3 linked regions of the Homo sapiens genome follow. The protein of the gene in region 3 interacts with the protein of the main gene of each other region in a pairwise test. Each region holds a gene or a part of one and is shown on either strand. Other genes may lie near its edges.

Region 1 (7,949 bases), on a different chromosome or scaffold from region 3:
GCGTCCACCACCATGCCCAGCTAATTTTTGTATTTTTAGTAGAGACAGGGTTTCACCATGTATCCCAAGCTGATCTTGAACACCTGAGCTCAAGCAATCTGCCCGCCTTGGCATCCCAAAGTGCAGGGATTACAGGAGTGAGCCACCGTGCCTGGCCTTGGACATTTTTCCTTATCCTCACATTGTTCCCTTCACCTGTAACACAACTTCACAACATCGCTGGGTCAAAAGTATCCAACTGGAAAGACCCAAATCAACTGTCACTTGAAAGTCTTTAATGACTAACTCCTCAACACCCAAATTAATCTTTCTTGTCTCTGTGCATTAGCATAACTTTTATTTGTGTACGTTTTCTCATCTCCTGGATTATAATTTCCTTAGGCTGGTAGAGTTGAAACAGTATGGTCTTAGGAGTGACACTGATCTGGGTTCCAAATCGCGTCACGATTTATTCTTCCTAAACTTCCTATTTCCCACTGATCCGTCTAGGATAATCATGTCAACTTCGAAGGGCTGTTGGGAGGTTTACTTTAAAAAAATTTTTTTAAGAGACAGCGTCTCCCTATGTTGCCTAGGTTGGTCTGGTCTCCTGGGCTCAAGGGATACTCCCACTTCTGCCTCCCAAACTGCTGGGATTACAGGCGTGAGCTGCGGAGCCCCGCCCTGCTGTGAGGTTTAGATGACAAACTATCTACAGGTACTCAAAGTTTGCTGTGTGGGGCTGATCGGCATTATTAACAGAATTATCAATAGCAGCATTTATTGAGTGATGGCTACCTACTTAGTGGCACTGCCAAACGCTGGAACCAAAAAGCAAACAAAAAGAACTGCCCTGGAGAAATACAATGTCTCCATCAAGTTTATGGATATAGGGAAATGCAGAGCACACCTGTCAGGATACACCCAGGCTGGATGTTGAGAAAACAGCAGCGACAAGAACAAACAAAACAACCCCATCAGCACGTGCAGTCCCTGCCGGCTCGGGGGTGTGTCCTGGGAAGAGAGTAAAGCTCTTTCCTATTGGCGATTTGGAGCATGACATCAAGACCACCCCCCTTGCAAAGGACCGACCAATGGGCTTCGGCGGGGAGGACCCAATGGCGACAGTTGAGGGCTTAACAGCGTCTAGGCTCTCACTCTGTTTTCCGCGGAAGCTGGGATGCTGCCTCCTGCCCCTCCAAAGGTCCCCGTTTAGACACAACCTGACTCTCATCTGTCGCCCCCTCCCGCCGGCTTTTTTAATAAAAGACAATTCTCGGCCGGGCGCGGTGGCTCACGCCTGTAATCTCCCCACTTTGGGAGGCCGAGGCGAGTGGGTCACTTGAGGCCAGGAGTTCGAGAACAGTCTGACCAACATGGTGAAACCCCGTCTCTACTAAAAATACAAAAATCAGCCGGGCGTGGTTACGCGGGCCCGTAATCCCAGCTACTCAGAAGGCTGAGGCAAGAGAATCGCTTGAACCTGGGAGGCGGAGGTTGCAGTGAGCCGAGATTGCTCCACCGCACTCCAGCCTGGGCGGCAGGGCAAGACTCCGTCTCTAAAAAGAAAAAAAAGAAAATTCTCTTTTGCCTAAGTTATTTCCGAGCCGCAAGTCGCAGAATCAGAAGAGCCGAGTTCTTGCCTGGCCCCAGTGTGACTTTGGGATTTCACTTTCTCCCTTCTGCGCTTCGGTCACCCTACTTTAAAGAATGGGCACAATCGCTCCGCCTTAGGCCAGGAACGTGCCTCGACAATTAGACCGTAAACTCAGCGTGGCGACTATCAGAAGCCTCATCAATTCTGGTCCGGCTGTTGCAGGGTGTGGCAAGCGCTCCTGGCGGGCAGGCGCCCCGTGGTTCCCCTCCAAGGTGTTTGGAAGCGACCCCTCCTCCTTCCCGCCCTAGGGAGCCCCAGGAGGGAGTGGCTCTGACCCTGACCCCCGAAAGGACGCAGGCGAGGCCCAGCGACCGGCTGTGCGGACGTGGGGCTCTCGGGAAGGGATAGCGCAGTTGGCCAAGCTGGGGTCCGAACCCCGCGGCCAGGAGTGGGGATGCTCAGGACTCGGGCCTGCGTGAGGAGAGGCCCCGCGCGCCTCCTACGACCCGGCTGGGGAGGCTCCGCAGAAGGGATTCCCGCTCCGTCTTCCACATCACTCCCCGATATCAAGCCCGAGTCGCCCCCTCAGCACCCCCCAGCCGTGTCGCGGCTTACCATTCCACTCGTCCCGGGCCAACCGGGCCATTATTCTCAGCACAGACCCCGCGGGAGCAGAGGAAGAGGGAGAGGCTTCGCTACCGGAAGTAACAAGACAGAGTGGGGGAAGCGTGCCCCGGCCCCGTGACCATAGAGGAGAGGCCGCTCTCCTTTCACAACCCCCCTCAACCCCGCGACCTCCCCGCTGCCTAGAGCGGCCACTCCCAGCCGGAGGAAGTGGGCGCATGCGTAATACCGCCGGTCCCGCCCCTTCCTCTTCACCCAGAGACCGAGTACCCGGGCTCGGCAGTCACAGCCCAAGGGGTGACGGGTGTGTGTCAGTTTCCGCTCCTCCTGGGCGGCTGTTCTTGTATCCGGAGGATACAAGCTTTGCCTAGAAATTAAAATATTACAAGGCCGCACCGTACTCTCTACAGTTATTTTTTGCCTTCACATTTTATGTAGAAAATCACAGGACTATACGTTCAATTTACGGTGTTAAGAATCGGAATTAAATGACTTTTATTTCTATTAAAATATTTTTTTTTTCGTAGAGATGGGGTCTCGCTGCGTTTTCCAGGCTGATCTTGAACATATGGCGTCAAGGGATCCTCCTGCCTCAGCCTTACAAAGTGCTGCGATTACAGGCGTGAGCCACCTCGTACAGCTTGAAATGGTTTTCTTATCACCACGTTTCGCCCCTTCCCAGCGTCTAGGTCACAGCGTCTAGAACTTATGCTGATTATTTGGTTTTGTTTTGTTGTTGTTGTTTGTTTTTGAGACAGAGTCTCACTCTCACCCGCCAGGCTGGCGTACAGTGGCACGATCTTGGCTCACTGCAACCTCCGCCTCCCGGGTTCAAGCGATTATCCCACCTCAGCCTCGTGAATAGTTGGGACTACGGGCGTGCACAACCACGCCTGGCTCATTTTAAAATTTCATTTTATTTTTATGGAGACAGGGTCTCGCTCTTTTCCCCAGGCTGGTCTGGAACTCCTGGGTTCAGGCGATTCTCCTGCCTCAGCCCCCGAAAACGCTGGGATTACAGGTGTGAGTCATGGCGCCAGGCCCCCATTAAACAGTTATTTATACAGATTTATTAATACGCTGCTTCCCAGTTCACATTCATTAGCACCACTGAGCCTCAATACAATCCCAGGAAATTGAGGTTTAGGAAGGTTTAATGCATTCCAGAACTAATAAGTGGCTGAGATAGATTTTGAAAATAGGTCTTCTAATCAACTTTCCTTTTGTTCGTTTGTTTGTTTTGGAGACGGAGTCTCGCTCTGTCGCCCAGGTTGGAGTGCAGTGGCACAATCTTGGCTCACTGCAACCTCCGCCTCCCGGGTTCAAGCAGTTCTCCTGCCTCAGCCTCCCGAGTAGCTGGGACTACAGGGGTGCGCCACCACGCCAGGCTAATTCTTTGTATTTTAGTAGAGATGGGGTTTCACCGTGTTGCCCAGGCTGGTCTCGAGCTCCTGGCCTCAAGCAATCCGCCTGCCTCGGCCTCCCAAAGTGCCAGGATCACAGGCGTGAGCCATCGCATCCGGCACTAACCAACTTTTCATAGTTGGCTTTTGTGAAAGACCAACCTGAATGTATTCATTCAACCCATGCTTATTGAGTGTCTACTACGTGTCAGCCCAGTGCTAGGCATTGGAGAACAGCAACCCCAAACCAACATACAATTCCATTAGGGCCGGGCCTCATATGTTGCACTCGACATAGTATTCCCAGAGGCTAATGCAGTAGCTAAGGGTCTCAGCTTTGCTTTCCGTGATCACCTAAGTAACAACCCCTATTATTCTTTTAATTTAATTTAATTTTTTTTTTGAAAACAAGTCTCGTTCTGTCACCCAGGCTGGAGTGCAGTGGCGTGATCTCGGTTCACAGCAACCTCCGCCTCCCAGGTTCAAGAGATTCTCCTGCCTCAGCTTCCCGAATAGCTGGGATTACAGGCGCGCACCACTGCACCCGGCTAATTTTTTGTATTTTTAATAGAGACAGGGTTTCACCATGTTGGCCAGGCTGCTCTTGAACTTCTGACCTCAGGTAATCCGCCCGCTTCTGCCTCCCAAATCGCTAGGATTACAGGCATGAGTCACCAAGCCCAGCCAATTTTTATATTTTTAGTAGAGACAGGGTTTCACTATGTTGGCCAGGCTGGTCTCGAACTCCTGATCTCGTGATCCGCCCGCCTCGGCCTTCCAAAGTGCTGGGATTACAGGCATAAGCCACCGGGTCCGGCCTAATTTTATTTTTTTAAGAGACAGGTCTCACTATGCTGTCCAGGCTGGTCTCGAACTCTTCAGTTCAACGGATCCTCCCGCCTCGGGTTCCCAAAGTGTTAGGCTTACAGGCGTGAGCCACCGCACCCGGATCCCATTATTCTCTATTACATCGCCCCGCTCTTTTTCTTAATAGCGATTTTCATGTGTTACCAAATGGCAAGTTTCACTCCTGCCTGAATTTCCCCTTACCCCAAGTTTAAGCTACAATGGGGCAGGGAGCACGTCTTCCTGTTCATCACTGTATCTCCACCCCTGTAAGAGTGGCTAGCATATCACAGAAACCCAGTCAGTATTTCCTGGTCGACTGGATGTCGAGACATGCACATTTTTTCTACTGAAGTGAAAGCCCGCACAAATTAGGCCACGCCTTGGGGACTTCGATAGCCACGCCCCTCCCCTGTCCCTATAAGGAGGGAAAGGAGCCCAGCCTTGGCCCCGCCCCCGCCGCCGCGCAGGCGCTGACGCAAGCGCAGCAGGCGCGCGCTGTTTCCGGAAGTCGCGGCCGGCGTCACCGCTGCGGCTGCCTCAGCTACTGCCGCAGTCGCCGCGGAATTCGGCGAGTAGAACCGCTGAGGCGGGCGCGGGCCCGGGTGGGGCCAAGGTTCCGGCCACTCTGCAGAATGGAGATAATCAGGAGCAGTGCGTGTCCGCCGTACACCTCCCCGCCTCCCCACACCCGGCTGCCCCTGGCCTGCTAGGCCGAGACCATGGCCGGCGTGTTTGGCTGGGCCTGGGGCTGAGGCAGCCCCTCAGGGCTTTTCCCTCCTTAAGCCGGTGCGCCTCTTGGGGTCTTTTCCGGCTGCGGACCGTGCACCCTAGGAGCCTTGTACTTACTCCTCCAACCCCGGCACCATCCGGGGCCTTGTCCTTCTCCGGGCCGGGCACCCCCCGGGGCTTGTCCCCCCTGACCCATGCACCCCTCGAGGACTTGATTCCCCTCGCCCCGGTGCACACCTCCGGGACTTTTCCCCTTCCGGCTCTCAGCCTCGGGAGCTCCTCGGCCCTCCTTCCCTCTCCCCTTAGCAGGAATTCAGGCCACTGGTTCTGAGCCTCTTTTCGGTTTCTCCGCAGATTTTAAGAGTAATCTTCACAAAGTGTACCAGGCCATAGAGGAGGCCGACTTCTTCGCCATCGATGGGGAGTTTTCAGGTATCCCTCCCTTGCAAGCTCAGGCTAGCACTTTGCAGTGCATAGCCAAGGCTCCTTCAATCCCCCAGCCCCCAACTTCTTATGCTTGGTGGTGGCCTCTTGCTGTTAGTAGCCTTGGGCGGGTTTCACAGGTCTCAGTGTTACCCTTTAAACGTTTCAAAAGCACGAAAGAAATGAAGATACGCCGTAGGTTTGTGATTGGACTCAGGATCTCAGATAGAGATGATGGTTTTGATGCTGCTTAAAACAGTGCGGCGTGTACATTGCAGAGAGCTTGAGGATTAGGGTCAGACTGTTTTTTTTCTTGATTGTAAAATAGGTATAACATGAAATTTGCCATTTTAAGTGGCTTTACAGTTAAGTGGCATTAAGTACATTCACATTGCTGTGCAAACATCACCATCCATCTCTAGGACTTCTTCATCTTCACAGTCTGAAACTCTTTACACATTAAACTCCCCATTTCTCCTTTCGCCCAGCCTTTAGCAACCGCCATTTGTCTCTGAATTTGACTGCCCTTAACATCTCATATAAGTGGAATCTTACAATATTTGCCCTTTTGTGACCGGCTAGGGTCAGGTTTTTGCAGATAAATGAGATATTTCTTTATGCATTAGTGGACGTGTTCATTGCCTGCCTCAACAGGTGTGTATACAGGAAATACTTCACTGACACTTAAAGTTGCAAATTTTTTTTCCCCTTTTTTAGGGGGAGCAAAGACTAGTTTTTAAATTGCTGATGTCAATATGAACGGTTCACTCCCTTTGATATGGATATCCATTTTTGCTGTCTGATTTTCCATGTTTGAATCATGAAGGAATCCATGCAGGGGTAAATAGTATCCTTGGCTTTAGGTAGTGTCTAGTTGGAATCACTTCCCTAGGAAGCTAAGAGTTTTCACTTAGAGAAATAATTTTCTCTTAATCTTGAAGATACATTCTTTGCATAGATATTAACCACTCCAAACTCTTGACCAAGACTGGAACTCTGGCAATAATATACTTAGGGATTTATTGATGTCTGTTTATACAGGAATCTTTTAAAGCAGCAAAACTTATTCAAGCATAGAGATTGTTTTCTTACATGATTACTGTGTTTTAAGTCATGTTTTAGACGCTGGAACTGCCTATTCTCATGTTGAAACATTCGCATCTCTAAGTTCATTATTAGAGGGTTTAACCTGGTGGCCACTGAAATTAATGCTTATTTTAAAAAAGTAAGTTAGGGAGTGCTTCCAAGTAACCTTAATTCGTGATACGACATTATAGAGGCACTGAATGATTGACTGGCATTTTTACGTTAGTATTTATTAGTAAGCTAAAAATTTTTATTTCTTAAAATCTAGGAATCAGTGATGGACCTTCAGTCTCTGCATTAACAAATGGTTTTGACACTCCAGAAGAGAGGTATCAGAAGCTTAAAAAGGCAAGTGGATGTGCTAGGAAATCTTTTTCTTTCTCATGTTAGTCTTCCTTATGTTAAATGATAAATATTGTTACTAAACTTGTGCATTAAGGTTTTGTAAGTGCAGTATTTTCTCCTCAAACCTAGCCATGAAGTGATTTTTTTTTTTGTTTTGTCTTGTTTTAGAGACAAGGTCTCGCTCTGTCACCCAGGCTGGGGTGCAGTGGCGTGATCACTGCTCTGTGGAGCCTTGAACTCCTGGCTCAACTGATTCTCCTGCCACAGCCTCCCAAGTAGTTGGGACTACAGGCGCAAGCCACTGTGCCCAGCCAATTATTATTATTTTTTTTAATTTTTACATATTCTTTTGTAGAGATCGGTCTCACTTTGTTGACCAGGCTGGTCTCGAACTTCTGGCGTCAAATGATCCTCCTGCTTTAGCCTCCCAAAGTGCTGGGATTACAGGTGTGAGCCACCACACCTGGCCTTAAAGTGTTATTTTAATGATATTTAAAACAGCAAAAATAATTGTTTGCTGGAAAATATTTTGGGGAAAGTTTAGCATTTTCAGTGTTAATTTGATTCATAGGAAATATGAGGCAGTTATTTTAATCATTTGGAAATAGACCTAATATGATTCTTTGGATGATGGATAAATAGGTCCTTAAATGGGAAAAGTATTATGAAATGTATACAAATTAATAATGCTTCTGATTCATATGTGTAATCTGTTCTAATTGGAAGTATTCTGCTGAAGTCTCATTGAGTAATTCAGAAAGCCCACCTGTTTGAGAATGCTATGCTCACATGGAATATGCAGCACTTTTGTGACAGATGTTTTATTTCCCTTTTCCAGCATTCCATGGACTTTTTGCTATTTCAGTTTGGCCTTTGCACTTTTAAGTATGACTACACAGATTCAAAGTAGGTTG
Region 2 (7,023 bases), on a different chromosome or scaffold from region 3:
GGGGCCAACGGGGAAGATATAAAAACAGGAACAGATATTTAATGAAACGTCTTTTTTAACCCACAGAATTCCAAGAATGAAGAATTATTCCCAGTCATGCAAGGGTGAAGAGAGTCTTCTCTGCTGGTGGGAGGATCAACTGTTTCCGTATTTTTTGGAAAGCAGTTTGACACAATGTATGAAAAGTAAAAATCTGTCTCATTAATCCCTTCCCAGAACGTATCCTAAATTTAAGAACTGGAAACATGCGTGCACACTGATTGTAGTGGTGAAAAATGGGAAAACACCTAAACGTTCCTCAGTGCAGAAGAGGTTAAATAAATCGTACATTCAAAAGAACATCATGCAGCCCTTCAAATCGGGCTCATCTCTGCACTGGCATAAGAAAGGTGTATAATATAGTACTGTCTGCAGAGCATGCCAGAGCCATTTTGTCTGGAAGGATTTCCATCAATATGCTGGGCCATCTCATGGTGGGAGTACAGGCAAATCTCACTTTGATCATTATAAAAACCATAAGGTAAAAGAAGGATATTTTTGGTGGGGTGGGAGAGCCCATTGAGTCCTTCCCACTCCATTTACATGTTTCAGAAAGCCTTCTCACTTGCTGTTTCTACTCTCTCCATCTTCATTTTTTTTTTTCCTTAGCACGTTTTCTCTACTACTGGAGGAAAATATTAACAGACATCATACATGCTCACAATAAACTAAAGATACACAATTAGGATACTACTATAGACCGTTCCCCCAGTGACTCTCACTTGCCAACAGTTTATCCTCCTGGTTCTAGATGCCCAGATAACCACACCATAAATTCTCCCAAGTGAGGCACATTTATGTTGCTTCCAGATCTTCTCCACAATAACCCAGCAACACTAGAATAAACTTGTACACTTCCATGCTGGTGCTTTTCATTCTAACCAGGTTTGGTTTCAAAGTGATAGTGCCCAATTAACTGCAGAACATTTGCAAGTCATGCTTCTTCCACCTGTGTTAAAACAATGACCTGGTCCTCCTGCCTGCCCATCAGCACTGGATGTTGTCACTGTTGGGTATTTTTGCTGTGGATAAAAGACAGAAGAATCTGTGCTGCTGCCTCCCACGGCATTTCCCTGCCCACCGGCGAGTGAGTGCTCTGGTAAGCACACTGGAACACCCGCCCACAGTTTATAATTTTCTAACTATTTTCTGATCTTGGTTTTCATTTTTCACATTTAAATTTTTTTTTTTTTTTTTTAAGACAGTCTCGCTCTGTCGCCCAGGCTGGAGTGCAGGGGCTCTCAGTTCACTGCAACCTCCGCCTCCCAGGTTTAGGCAATTCTCATGCCTCAGCCTCCTGAGTAGCTAGGACTACGGGCACGCACCACCACACCCAGCTACTTTTTTGTATTTTTAGTAGATACAGGGTTTTCCTATGTTGCCCAGACTGGTCTTGAGCTCCTGAGCTCAGGACCTCCACCCATCTCGGCTTCCCAAAGTGCTGTGATTACAGGCGTGAGCCACCACGCCCAGCCAAATTTTCTAGAATTTGATACAGATTGAGTATCCCTTATTCAAAGTGCTTATGACCAGAAGTCTTTCAGATTTTGATTTGCATTATACTTACCAGTTGAGCATCCCTACTCCAAAAACCCAAAATCTGAAATGCTTCAATGAGCATTTACTTTGTCATGTCTGTGCTGAAAAAGTCAGATTTTACTGGGCACAGTGTCTCGTGCCTGTAGTCTCAGCTACTCTCATGAGGCTGATGCAGGAGGATTGCTCAAGTTCAGGAGTTCAAGGCTATAGTGTGCAATGATTTCACTTGCGACCAGCCACTGCACTCCATCCTGCACAACATGGCAAGACTCAATTCTTTTTTCTTAAAGAAAAAGGTTTTGGATTTCGGAGCATTTCGGATTTTCAGATGACGGATGAACTCAATCTGTATATGTTATGAGGTAGAGGGTCCAAAATTTTCTTTTCCAGAAATGTACAAAACACACCATTTATTTCCCTACCAAATTGGCATATAGGTCTACCATCCCTTATCTATAAACTGGAAATCCAAAAGGCTCTAGAAAACAAGTCTTCCCCCAAAATTCATTTGGTGGCTAAATGTGAACTGACATTACATTTTTCATTTATATGTAAGTCATGTGAAGAATTATTTGTGACTCAACTACAAGGCGCTTTCCCCAGATCCTGTTGGAGAGGTTAGTGCTAATACCATATTGTCTTTCTTTTTATTTTATTTTAGAGATAGGAGTCTCACTCTGTTGCCCAGGCTGCACTGCCATTGTGTGATCACGGCTCACTGCAGCCTCAAACTCCTGGGCTCAAGTGATCTTCCCATGCTAGCCTCTTGAGTAGCTGGGACTATAGGCACTCACCACCATGCTTGGCTAATTTTTTATTTTTTGTAGAGACGAGATCTCACTATGGTCAGGAACTCCTGGGCTCAAGCAATCCCACCTAAGCCTCCCAAAGTGCTGGGATTGCAGGTGTGAGCCACTGCCCCCAGCCTTGCATATTGGTTTTCTGAAGCTGAAAAATTAATTCTGAGGCTTCTGGCCCTAAGGTTTCAGATAAAATATCTGTACTAACTTTAACAAATTACTAAGTCTGAAATATACTGAGATCTTTTGCTAGACTCTCTATTCTGGTTCCACTGTTTCATTACTGTGCTAATTATCACTTTTTTTGTTTTTTAATTGCAGCAGCTTTGTAGTAAGTTTTAGTATTTCTGAAATCAATCTCTCAGCTATTGTTAGACTGAATTTTACAATGTAAAACTTTAAAATAATTTCATTTCATTCAGTCCTACTCCCCGACTGATATTTTTGACTAGAAATGTGCTGTCTATATTAATTTGGAGAGAACTGGTTTTTGTTTTGTTTCACTATTAAATTGCCTATTTAAGAACACAGAACATTCCTCCATTCATTAAGGTCTATTTCTTTTTTTTTTTTTTTTTTTTTTTGAGATGGAGTCTTGCTCTGTTGCTCAGGCTGAAATGCAGTGGCATGATCTCAGCTCACTGCAACCTCCACCTCCAAGGTTCAAGCAATTCTCTGCTTCAGCCTCCCAAGTAGCTGAGATTATAGGCACCCACCACCCCACCCGGCTAATTTTTTGTATTTTTAGTAGAGACAGGGTTTCACCATCTTGGCCAGGCTGGTCTTGAACTCCTGACCTAGTGATTCACCTGCCTCCGCCTCCCAAAGTGCTGGGATTATAGGCGTGAGCCACCGTGCCCGGCTAAGGTCTTATTTCATATCCTTGGAGTATTTGCAGTTCTTAAAAGATCTCAAGCCTTTCTTCTTCCCTCCCTGTTTTTTTTTTTTTTGAGACGGAGTTTTGCTCTTGTTGCCCAGGCTGGAGTGCAATGGCGCGATCTTGGCTCACTGCAACCTCCGCCTCCCAGGTTCAAGCGATTCTCCTGCCTCAGCCCCCTGAGTAGCTGAGATTACAGGCGCCCACCACCACGCCCAGCTAATTTTTTGTATTTTAGTAGAGACAGGGTTTCATTATGTTGGCCAGGCTGGTCTCAAACTCCTGACCTCAGGCAATCCACCCGCCTCAGCCTCCCCAAAGTGCTGGGATTACAGGCATGAGCCACCATGCCTGGCCCTCAAGTCTTTCTTCTTAAATCTGTATTCTTAGCTATTTCATACATTGTGTGGTTATTTTAAGTAGTTTTTTTTCCATTTAAATTTCTAACTGGTTAATACTAGAATAGAGAAACACTACGACTTTTTGTACGCTATTTTGAATCCCATCCCCTTACCAAATTCTATTAATTCTAAGAACATTTTGCTGGGATCATTCAGCTTTTCTAAGAGCATAATCACATTATTTGCACATAAAGAGAGTTTGCATTATACCAATAATATTGCTAGATTTTTTGTTTTTGTTTTTGAGACGGAGTCTCGCTTTGTCGCCCAGGCTGGAGTGCAGTGGCGCGATATCAGCTCACTGCGAGCTCCGCCTCCCAGGTTCATGCCATTCTCTTTTTTTTTTTTTTTGAGACGGAGTCTCGCTCTGTTGCCCAGGCTGGAGTGCAGTGGCGGGATCTCGGCTCACTGCAAGCTCCGCCTCCCGAGTTCACGCCATTCTCCTGCCTCAGCCTCCCAAGTAGCTGGGACTACAGGCGCCCACCACCACGCCCGGCTAATTTTTTGTGTTTTTAGTAGAGACGGGGTTTCACCGTTTTAGCCGGGATGGTCTCGATCTCCTGACCTCGTGATCCGCCCGCCTCGGCCTCCCAAAGTGCTGGGACTACAGGCGTGAGCCACCGCGCCCGGCCTTTCATGCCATTCTCTTGCCTCAGCCTCCCGAGTAGCTGGGACTACAGGCGCCCGCCACCACGTCTGGCTAATTTTTTGTATTTTTAGTAGAGATGGGGTTTCACCGTGTTAGCCAGGATGGTCTCGATCTCCTGACCTCGTGATCCACCCACCTCGGCCTCCCAAAGTGCTGGGATTACAGGCATGAGCCACCGCGCCCGGCAACTGTTGCTAGATTTCTTAGGGAACCATCCCTCCATTCCAGAAACAAACCTTACTTATAATGTATCATACATAGGGATCACTACTAGATTGATAGTTACTAATATTTTATTTAGCACTTCATTTTATTTATTTTTTTGAGACAGAGTCTTGCTCTGTTGCCCCGGCTGGAATGCAGTGGCACGATCACAGCTCATTGCAGCCTCAACCTCCTGGGCTCAGGTGATCCTCCCACCTCAGCCTCCCAAGTAGCTGGGACCACAGGCCCCAGTACCTGGCTAATTTTTTTATTTTTAATTTTATAGACACAGTGTCTCACTATATTGCCCAGGCTGGTCTTGAACTCCTGGGCTCAAATGATCCTCCCACCTCAGTCTCCCCAAGTGCTGGGATTACAGGTATAAGCCACTATATCCAGCCAACTTTCTTTCTTTTTTTTCTTTTTTTTTTTTTGAGGAGTCTCACTCTGTTGCCCAGGCTGGAGTGCAGTGGCGCGATCTCGGCTCACTGCAACCTCCGCCTCCTGGGTTCACACCATTCTCCTGCCTCAGCCTCTCGAGTAGCTGGGACTACAGGCGCCCGTCACTACGCCCGGCTAATTTTTTGTATTTTTAGTAGAGATGGGGTTTCACCGTGTTAGCCAGGATGGTCTTGATCTCCTGACCTCGTGATCCGCCTGCCTCGGCCTCCCAAAGTGCTGGGATTACAGGCATGAGCCACCGCGCCCGGCCAATCCAGCCCACTTTCATATCTTTAATAATAGTAAACTAATCTACAGTTTCATTTTGGTATCATCTTTATCAGAATTTTGGAATTAAGGTTTAAGAAGCTTCCTAAATATTGAGAGGACAGACTCTAGCATAGCAGTCTGAGGCGTTCCCTGGAACACTCCCTAGTGAAACTGATGAAAAGTATTAAAAAACAACCATTTAAAGTCTCTGAAAATGTTCCTAAGGACATACAGCCCTATGAGAAAGATTTAATGAGGAAAAGCTACTAAAACTCAGTTCCATGAAGAGTTGTGATGTCTGAAACACAACCTATTGCATCCCTGCCTCCCCCAGCTTAGTGTGATGGAAACTCCACTCCAGACAGTACAGCCAAGAAGACAGGTCTGCCCGCATCTACCCAGATCATCTCAGTTAAGGGGTATGATATCTTCCCAGGAGGAACAGAATGTCAGCATCTATTTTTCTGAGTTGGAGTTTCACTCTTGGTTGCCCAGGCTGGAGTGCAATGGCGTGATATCGGCTCACTGCAACCTCTACTTCCCGGGTTCAAACAATTCTCCTGCCTCAGCCTTCCGAGTAGCTGGGATTACAAGTGCCCGCCACCAAGCCCGGCTAATTTTTGTATTTTTAGTAAAGATGGGGTTTCACGATGTTGTCCAGGCTGGTCTTGAACTCCTGACCTCAGGTGATCTGCCCACCTTGGCCTCCCAAAGTGCTGGGATTACAGGCGTGAGCCACTGTACCCAGCCGGATGTCAGTATCTCTCATCCCGCCCCCAGCTACCTGCTGATGAGGCTAAGTTCTAGACAAGCATAGCTGAGAGAGAACGGTTCCTATCTTCTACCCAGCCACACGCACGTGGAATGGAGGCTTGACCCTGGGCATGGCACACTAAGAATATAAGGGCTCACATACCCATGGCTTGTTCATAAAGCAGAGGTCCCATGCCAGGAAAGGCAAACCAAGACCGGAGGCTACAGCCTACTGTACCTCCTCCCATGTCTCTCCTAAAGTGGCAGAGTCACTCAGAGAGAGGTACTCCATTGTCTCCATCCCCAGAGCCTTGGCTCAGAGATTCTGCCCACAGTGAGAGCACGGCCTTAAATCAGTAAACTCCCAATCTCAAAGGAACTGACTGACTTCACTGGCAAGAGTGTTGGGAAGTGCAAGACTAGGGCCTCTCTCAAAAACAATGGAGACTAGGGAGGAAAAAAATTAAAAGGACATTGATAGCTTTTTTTTTTCTTTCTGAATATTTATTGGAGTTAAACACTGATAGCTTTGTCCTTTTTTTTTTCCCCCACCACACAGCCATAAAAAAGAAGGACCGGTAGATTTGACAGTGATATTAGCTAACCCATAGGCTAACTAGGTTACCAAAGAGGACAAGGACCAGTGAAATAGCTAAGAACAGACTCCCTGGGTTCAGAATAAATCTCAAACAACCACCTCAAAAACCATCCCTCTTGGGCCTGGCATAGTGGCTGACGCCTGTAATCCCAGCACCTTGTGAGGCTGAGGTGGGTGGCTCATAAGATCAAGAGTTCGAGACCAGCCTGGCCAACATGGTGAAACCCCGTCTCTACTAACAATACAAAAATTAGCCGGGCGTGGTAGCACATGCCTGTAATCCCAGCTACTCGGGAGGCTGAGGCAGGAGAATTGCTTGAACCTGAGAGGTGGAGGTTGCAGCAAGCCAAGATCGCGCCACTGCATTCCAGCCTGGGCAACAGAGCAAGACTCTTGTCTGGGAGAGGGGGCGGGGAGGGGAGGGGAAAAAAATCCCTATAAAGGAGCCCAAA
Region 3 (7,023 bases):
GGCTTCCACCCTGTATACTTGCTCCTTGCATTCCTGTTCCCTGCATGACTGGGACCTATGTGTACAAAGAGAAAAGAGAGATTTTTGGCATTTTTAATGTATAGGTAACCTGAATTCAGTAATAATGTGACAAATTATGATCTCTATACAGATATGAGTAAAAAAAGCAAATCAATGACTCTGAAGATCATTTTCTACTGTTAGCAATAGCAGAAGGCAGGGTTTAGCCAGAGATCAACTAGCAAGTTCGACATACTTGCTTACAACACCTCCAGCATCATCAACAAATATTACACAGCACAACTGGATACCACTGAATTAATCAAAATTCAGCCAAATAAGCACAGTGAAAACTGAGAACACCCTGGAAACTAGTGCTCACTGGAAATACAAATGAAAGCCAACAGAGTCTAGAGAAAATGTATGCTGGTCCACTGGGGAAGTTACATTCACAGGGCCACCCCCTACCCTAGTTCAATCAGATACAGGTAGTTTGTCCCAAAGGGCCCTATCCCACAAGTGAGGCAGAGATGTTCATAATGTCAGAGAGGCAGAAAGGCAATGGGAAGGCCTCCAGGAAAAAGACTGCTATTAGCCCAACATTTGCTGTTTATAGCTTTCCATAGAGAACATATGGCAGATGCTTTCTGCTAAATGTAGACCAAAAAATATGACTGACTGGAGTGAAAAAACCAAGTACAGTGATATCATACTTACTGGTACTTAAGATCTTCAATGAGTTCAACCCTTTGCAAGACTACCAGAACCCAAGGAAAAGACCTCTTGAGTACCAAATCTAACTGTTAGAATGTCCCTATACAAGCATTATGTTCACACTCAGGCATTCACCCAGAGCTTAGGTACTCTCTTAATAAACACATATTGTTAACAAACTTGTTACCTGCTTACCCAGCAGATTAGAAGCAGCAAAACATAAAAGAAATACGGATAAATAACTGTTAGGAGCAGATACCACTTCAGTAATATGAAGAGCCAGGTGACGGCCTGACAGTGAAGGAGACCAGAAACCAAACAGGAGATAACTATGTTTTATATTACGGTATAGACAATAATGAATCTATTCAATGATGACCTTGAGTAGTCAAAACTGATTAAACTATTTTTTTGTATCCTGTTCAAGAAAGGAAATATCAAATACTTTTTATAATTTTTTATTAAAAAAGTTAAAAAACTTGGTAGAATAGTTCTATTATCTGGAACATTCACTTACATGCATTAACTCATTTCCCAAAGACAATGGATAGATGAAACATTAGTACAGATTTGTATAGACTGCTAGAATATTATCACTGTTCTGTTCATTATCAATACTGAAACCAGAGACAAGTTTCCAGAGACCAGTCTGAACATTAACGAGCTATTATGGGTCTGAAACACCTATGAGTATAATCTTTTTTTTTAAAATTTTTTATTTCCATAGGTTATTGGGGAACAGGTGGTGTTTGGTCACATGAGTTTATAGCAGCACAATTCGGAATTGAGTATAATCTTTTTGAAGCTTTAATCTGAGGTACTGTAATTGTGATCTAACCACTCAATAACGGCCATTTTAAGTTTCTAGGTGTGCTTGTTCTAGGCAGACAAGTACTAGCAAAAGTGACCATACATCTTGGTTTCCCTAAGATAGTCCCAGTTTATGTTTTTGCCTCCAAGTAAAGTAACAGCACTTTCTTTCATGTTCTCCTTTAGATGATAAATTATATAATCACCCTAGTAATAATAAGCCTTTTGCCCACAAGTTTCTAACTAAGTGGACTAGAGTTAATTTTAAAATCTAATTTAAAAGTATGAATTAAGGACATGTTGTTAAGTTAAAAAAAAAAAAGGTATAGAACAGTGAAAGGGGAAAAATAATATATATTCATGTTTTCCAGAAAGTAACATGAAAAATCTAATAAAAGTGATTATCTACAGGACCTAGAGGGCCACAGGGGAGACAAGCATAGGAGAGGAAGCAAGGTTCCTTTTAGTTTAAGATGTGGTCTCACTATCTTGTGTAGGCGGGCCTCCAACTCCTGGGCTCTACTGATCCTCCTGCCTTAGCCTCCAGAGTAGCTGGGACTACAGGATTCTACCCTGGCTTTTTTTTTTTTTTTAAAGATGGGAGTCTAATATGCTGCCCAGGCTGGAGTGCAGTGGCTAGTCACAGGTGCGATCAGAATGCACCACAGCCTCAAGTTCCTAGACTTAAATGGTCTTCCTGCCCCAGCCTCCAGAGTGCTGGCACTACAGGTGCATGTCACCATGCCTGGCTTGAAGTTCTTAATACATATATCTTTTATAGATGAACGAATATATATATTTATAAGTTAATATATTAATTTAAAATTTTTTTAAAGGTTTGAAGATAAAATTTGTATTTTCTCTTGCCTCAGATCTAATTGGCTTTATCGAATCTACTAATAAAAATGGTATAAACCTAGTATTAGGGTAATAAGTTCAAGTACCAGCAGAGAGAAAGGAGCAAAATATTATCCAGAAATGTTCTTCCAACCCTTACTTGCAATGTCTTGCATCATAGAACTACCAGTAAAATTATGTAAGCGCATTATGTAGTTATTTGTTTGTTATCTGTCTTCCCAACTAGAATGTAAGCCCATGGGGGAAGGGGCTTTGTTCTGTTCACACTGCAGTATCCCCCGTACCTAGATCTATGTTTGGTACATAGTAGGTGCTCAATAAATATTTGCTGAGTGACAGAATGAATGCATAAAAACCATTTCTGTTACTAGGCTACTGACCATAGAGAGTACAATAAAAATCAAGGCCCACAAACACTTCAAACACAATAGAGAACAGTTTTATTCTACACATAGCAAAAAAACCCTCTATTTGTATTTCATATTACAGAGGAGGGGGTAGACACATATCCACACATATACACACACACAAATGTGCAGATAACAGGACAGAGTAGTAAAGTGGAAAAAGTAGTGGCTTCTGTTCCTTGCTCTGCCACTTTTTAGTCATGTGAATTTGGTCAAGTCACCTGAATTCTTGGGCCTTAATTTCCAAATCTATAAACTGAGGGAATTAGATGATTGATGTATTCCATTCCAGCTCTGCCATTATCTTTCTCTCTCTCATACACACAGACATGGGGAGGAAGACACATAAAAAAAGAAGAGAGAAGTACGCAGAGGAAGGGGGGAAAAGGAAGGTGGAGCAGTTAGAGGGAAATGAAGGTGCCAGCATATAAAAACTCACGGAAGAAACACACATACCACCTCTCCACAACCAAGTCGAGATGAAGAGGGAGCATGTACACACAGGCAGAGAGATCCAAATAAAAGAGAGGAGACAAGACTTCGGTTCCACACCTTTTAAGGTGATTATTAATAAACTGCCTTTCACATTCCACTGTTCACTTAGGCTATGTGATGACAATAAATTAACACAGGTCTCTCTAAACCTAAGATTATCTAAATGGCCACTAACAGCTCTTCATATACTCTAACCCAGTGGTTCCCAGTCAGGGTTCACATTAGAATCATTTGGGGGAAGTTTTTCAAACTATCCATGCTCAGATCCTACTAATAAGAGATTCTGAGTTATACCTCGGATGAGATCCGGGCAAGTATATCTTGGAAAAAACCGTGTACATGATGTTGGTTTGTACCCCAATCAAGACTACTTTCTAACCCCTAAATTTTCAGGGGCTCTGCTCCAAATGAATAGCTATTTATTGTGGGATAAGGTTGTTTTTTTTTGAACTACAATCCTGATAGCCAGAAAATCACCACCCTAAGGGACAGAGAAGCTACAGGGAGATCCAAGTCTTCCCTTTCTAACAAGCTAAGAAACAGCCCAAGTCAGAAGGCAGTAATAATTAGGCTCAATAATCAATTCCTGAATAGATCAAGATTTCACTTGGATGCCAGAAGTCAGTGTTACACATACCTGTCTGGATCCCTGGGGGACAACCGCCCCCATGTTAATTGGACTGGGACCCTGCATTCCACTAGGTATAGGTCCTCTGGGGCCAGGCACTGGGCCTCTGGTATCCATGCCTCTGGCCTCCATCCCTCGGACTTCCATTGCACGGGCCTCCATCGCTCGGGCCTCCATTGCACGAGCTTCCATCGCACGGGCCTCCATTGCACGGGCCTCTAATCCTCTGGCATCTAACCCTCTTGCCTCCATGGCTCGGGCCTCCATCCCTCGTGCATCTATTCCTCGGGGATCCCTTCCACCTATAAAGAAAAATGTAACAAAACCATTATGTAGCTACTTGCATGTACTGCAAGAATGATGAACAATCCAAGAAAGATAGAAATCTCTTCTAGTCACATTTGTCCCCTCAGCTATTAACATATGAGACTATTGTCTCCTCCCCAGTTTCTCAGATTTGTGGATAAACCTTAAAGATGCTTGCAAACCTACTGTTCCAGCATTCTTTATCCCAGATTAGAGCCTAAGACAGTTGAGTTCATTATGGCATTTGCAATGTGATCTCCCCTTACCTCTGCCATCCAAGGGTGGACCCCTCTGATCTAGCATGGGTCCTCTTGGTTCTGCCATTAGAGGTCTGGGCTCGGGTAATGGCCCTCCCCTCAGTTCATGTGGGGGTGGTCCTCGGCTCTCATGGCCAGGGACATGGTGCATGGGTGGACCCTGATGAGGTGGTCCCAAGTAACCTCTGGAGATGGAGAAAAACGTTGTATTTTAAAATAGAACAAAACAACAACAAAGTACCAACCAGATCAGTAAGTAAACATCCAACAAAGAGCTGATGTAGTCTATGAATACTAACAAGAAAATAACACCAAATAGATGGAAGAAAAGCTACAGAGATATAAATCCATGTATTCTAGAATTTCGTTATTTGGTTCATAATTAGGGAGGAATCAACGAATATTCATTATATGTATGAGTTTGCAGAACAATGCATAAGAACATGAGCTCTGGATTCAGACTGTATGGGTTCAAATCTAGGCTCTATCACTTATTAGCTGTGTGATATTGGACACATTATTTAACTTTTCCACACATCAGTTTCACGTGTAAAATGGGACTAATAATGGTATCCATCTCACAGGATCTTGTGGATTTAATAAGATGATCTAAGTAAAGTACTCAGAGCAGAGTCAGAGGCATGATCCCCATTAATGTCAATTATTATTACTATCATTATTTTATTTATTTATTTACTTTTGAAATGGAGTTTCACTCTTGTTGCCCAGGCTGGAGTGCAGTGGCATGACCTCGGCTCACTGCAACCTCCACCTCCTGGGTTCAAGCGATTCTCCTGCCTCAGCCTCCCCAGTAGCTGTAATTATAGGCGCCCGCCACCACGCCCGGCTAATTTTTCTATTTTTAGTAGAGATGGGATTTCACCATGTAGGCCAGGCAGGTCTCGAACTCCTGACCTCAAGTGATCCACCCACCTTGGCCTCCCAAAGTACTGGGATTATAGGCGTCAGCCACTGCACCCGGCCTATTATTGCTATTATTAATATTTCCACTACTATAAATTTCCCTGTTCAAGTATGTATACTAAAATTTCCAATTTCTAAAAATATAATAGCTCAAAATGACATACTCAAGTACATAGTTCTGCCTTAGGAGAAGTGCTTACCCTTGGACAGTGGCCATGAATATTGATCTACCTTTTGAAGTAGGCAAACAGGTACAACTGGTACAGAAAGATTTTGTTCTCAGGGAAGAAGGGACAATTCTGATTTCTTCAACTGTTTCCTTCTATGTTAGTGCTTACCTAGGCTCTACCTCTCCAGTTACAGAAAGTAAAGTGCCTCCCCGTGGATCATTCGGAGCATCTCCTAACAAGCCTCGAGGGGTTGGGACATTCGCAGGCAAGGATCCCCGCTGCATAGCTGCTCTGGGGTCTTGCATCGGCACTGACAGGGAAACAAACGGGGAGTTACTGCTGTGAAAGACACATAAGCAAACAAGAAATGACTCTATATACCACTGACAACATAATTCAGACACCTTAGAGTGGGTGAAACCTCACCACAGCAGAATCCTCTTGCAGCTCAAGAACAGAAGCAGGGTGTAGGCAGAATCTGTGCCATGTCAGAGGTATGGATGGAATTATATAAAGAGCAAACTGGGGAGCAACCTGCCAAGGACTAGCACTGCGACCTGGAGAAACTTATGCTCCTGGTTTTCCTTCTAATCAATCTTAGTTCAAGGACCAGAGTCACAAAACAGAGGTAGAGTCTTGGCATATGTGAACACTGCCATGGCTCTGCAAGAACCCGCTGTCTCCTTACAGACTGCTATTCCATCCAAGCCTCCTGACACCAGTAGGGAGGGAGTACAGCCTCGGACAGATGCCCATATCATCCATGTTCTCTGCCCTGTGTGAAGAGGTCAATCTTAGGCTTGTGGCCTCAACAGGAAAAAATTAAAAAAACAAAAACCCAAAAACACTACCCTTTTGGGTTCTGAACGCGAGGATGACTGCCACGCAGCTCTTTTCCTCTCAACGTCCCACCCTGAACACCACAAGCAAAAGGAAACCCACAGATACAATGGGTACCTTGAACTCGCTCAATTGATGCAGGCCCGGCGGGTCCCACGGGCGAGTGCTGTAGGGTTCCTAGGTAAGCAGTAAGTTCAAAAGGAGAAAGAGCAGACACTTAAAATAGCTTGCATACACACGCAGAAACACACACACATGGAGATTGAGATTTACATATATAAGTTAAAAAGCCAAGAGTTCATCGGCTTGCTCCAGGCTACAAAATCTCCCTAAACTACACTAGCTCCTTTGGGTCTCTGAAATAGTTCCATTTTGACCAGATAGCTTTTGAAAGGGAATCCCATGGGGGCACTGGTTTGATCTAGGTGGGAATAACCTGACATTTTCGATTTTCACCTCTGCTACTAGTTTTCCGTTAGGTCTCCTTATGAAATCATTAGGAAAAAAATATATAAAAAGGATAGTTTTGAATCTTCTAGTTATGCAAAGAACATAAATGTAGTTTCAGAAGCAAAACATAAAAGAAACTGCACTGAATCTGGAAGGCAAGATTC

What was found. The genes of interacting proteins can lie anywhere in the genome.
Region 1: the proteins of CSTF2 (region 3) and PARN interact in binary tests that used the Homo sapiens proteins (3 or more experiments, as listed by UniProt).
Region 2: the proteins of CSTF2 (region 3) and AKAP8L interact in binary tests that used the Homo sapiens proteins (3 or more experiments, as listed by UniProt).

Annotation. Positions count from the first base shown.
Region 1 is NC_000016.10:14,627,261-14,635,209, reverse strand, and holds the start of PARN (poly(A)-specific ribonuclease PARN), read left to right. Parts: upstream 1-4,949; 5' UTR 4,950-5,084; coding exon 5,085-5,103; intron 5,104-5,535; coding exon 5,536-5,613; intron 5,614-6,958; coding exon 6,959-7,038; intron 7,039-7,873; coding exon 7,874-7,941; intron 7,942-7,949. UniProt on the Homo sapiens protein: 3'-exoribonuclease that has a preference for poly(A) tails of mRNAs, thereby efficiently degrading poly(A) tails.
Region 2 is NC_000019.10:15,380,989-15,388,011, forward strand, and holds part of AKAP8L (A-kinase anchor protein 8-like), read right to left. Parts: intron 1-7,023. UniProt on the Homo sapiens protein: Could play a role in constitutive transport element (CTE)-mediated gene expression by association with DHX9. Increases CTE-dependent nuclear unspliced mRNA export.
Region 3 is NC_000023.11:100,830,371-100,837,393, reverse strand, and holds part of CSTF2 (cleavage stimulation factor subunit 2), read right to left. Parts: intron 6,587-7,023; coding exon of another isoform or gene 6,527-6,586; intron 6,345-6,526; coding exon of another isoform or gene 6,172-6,344; exon of another isoform or gene 5,886-6,171; intron 5,880-5,885; coding exon 5,738-5,879; intron 4,661-5,737; coding exon 4,485-4,660; intron 4,215-4,484; coding exon 3,922-4,214; intron 56-3,921; coding exon 1-55. UniProt on the Homo sapiens protein: One of the multiple factors required for polyadenylation and 3'-end cleavage of mammalian pre-mRNAs. This subunit is directly involved in the binding to pre-mRNAs.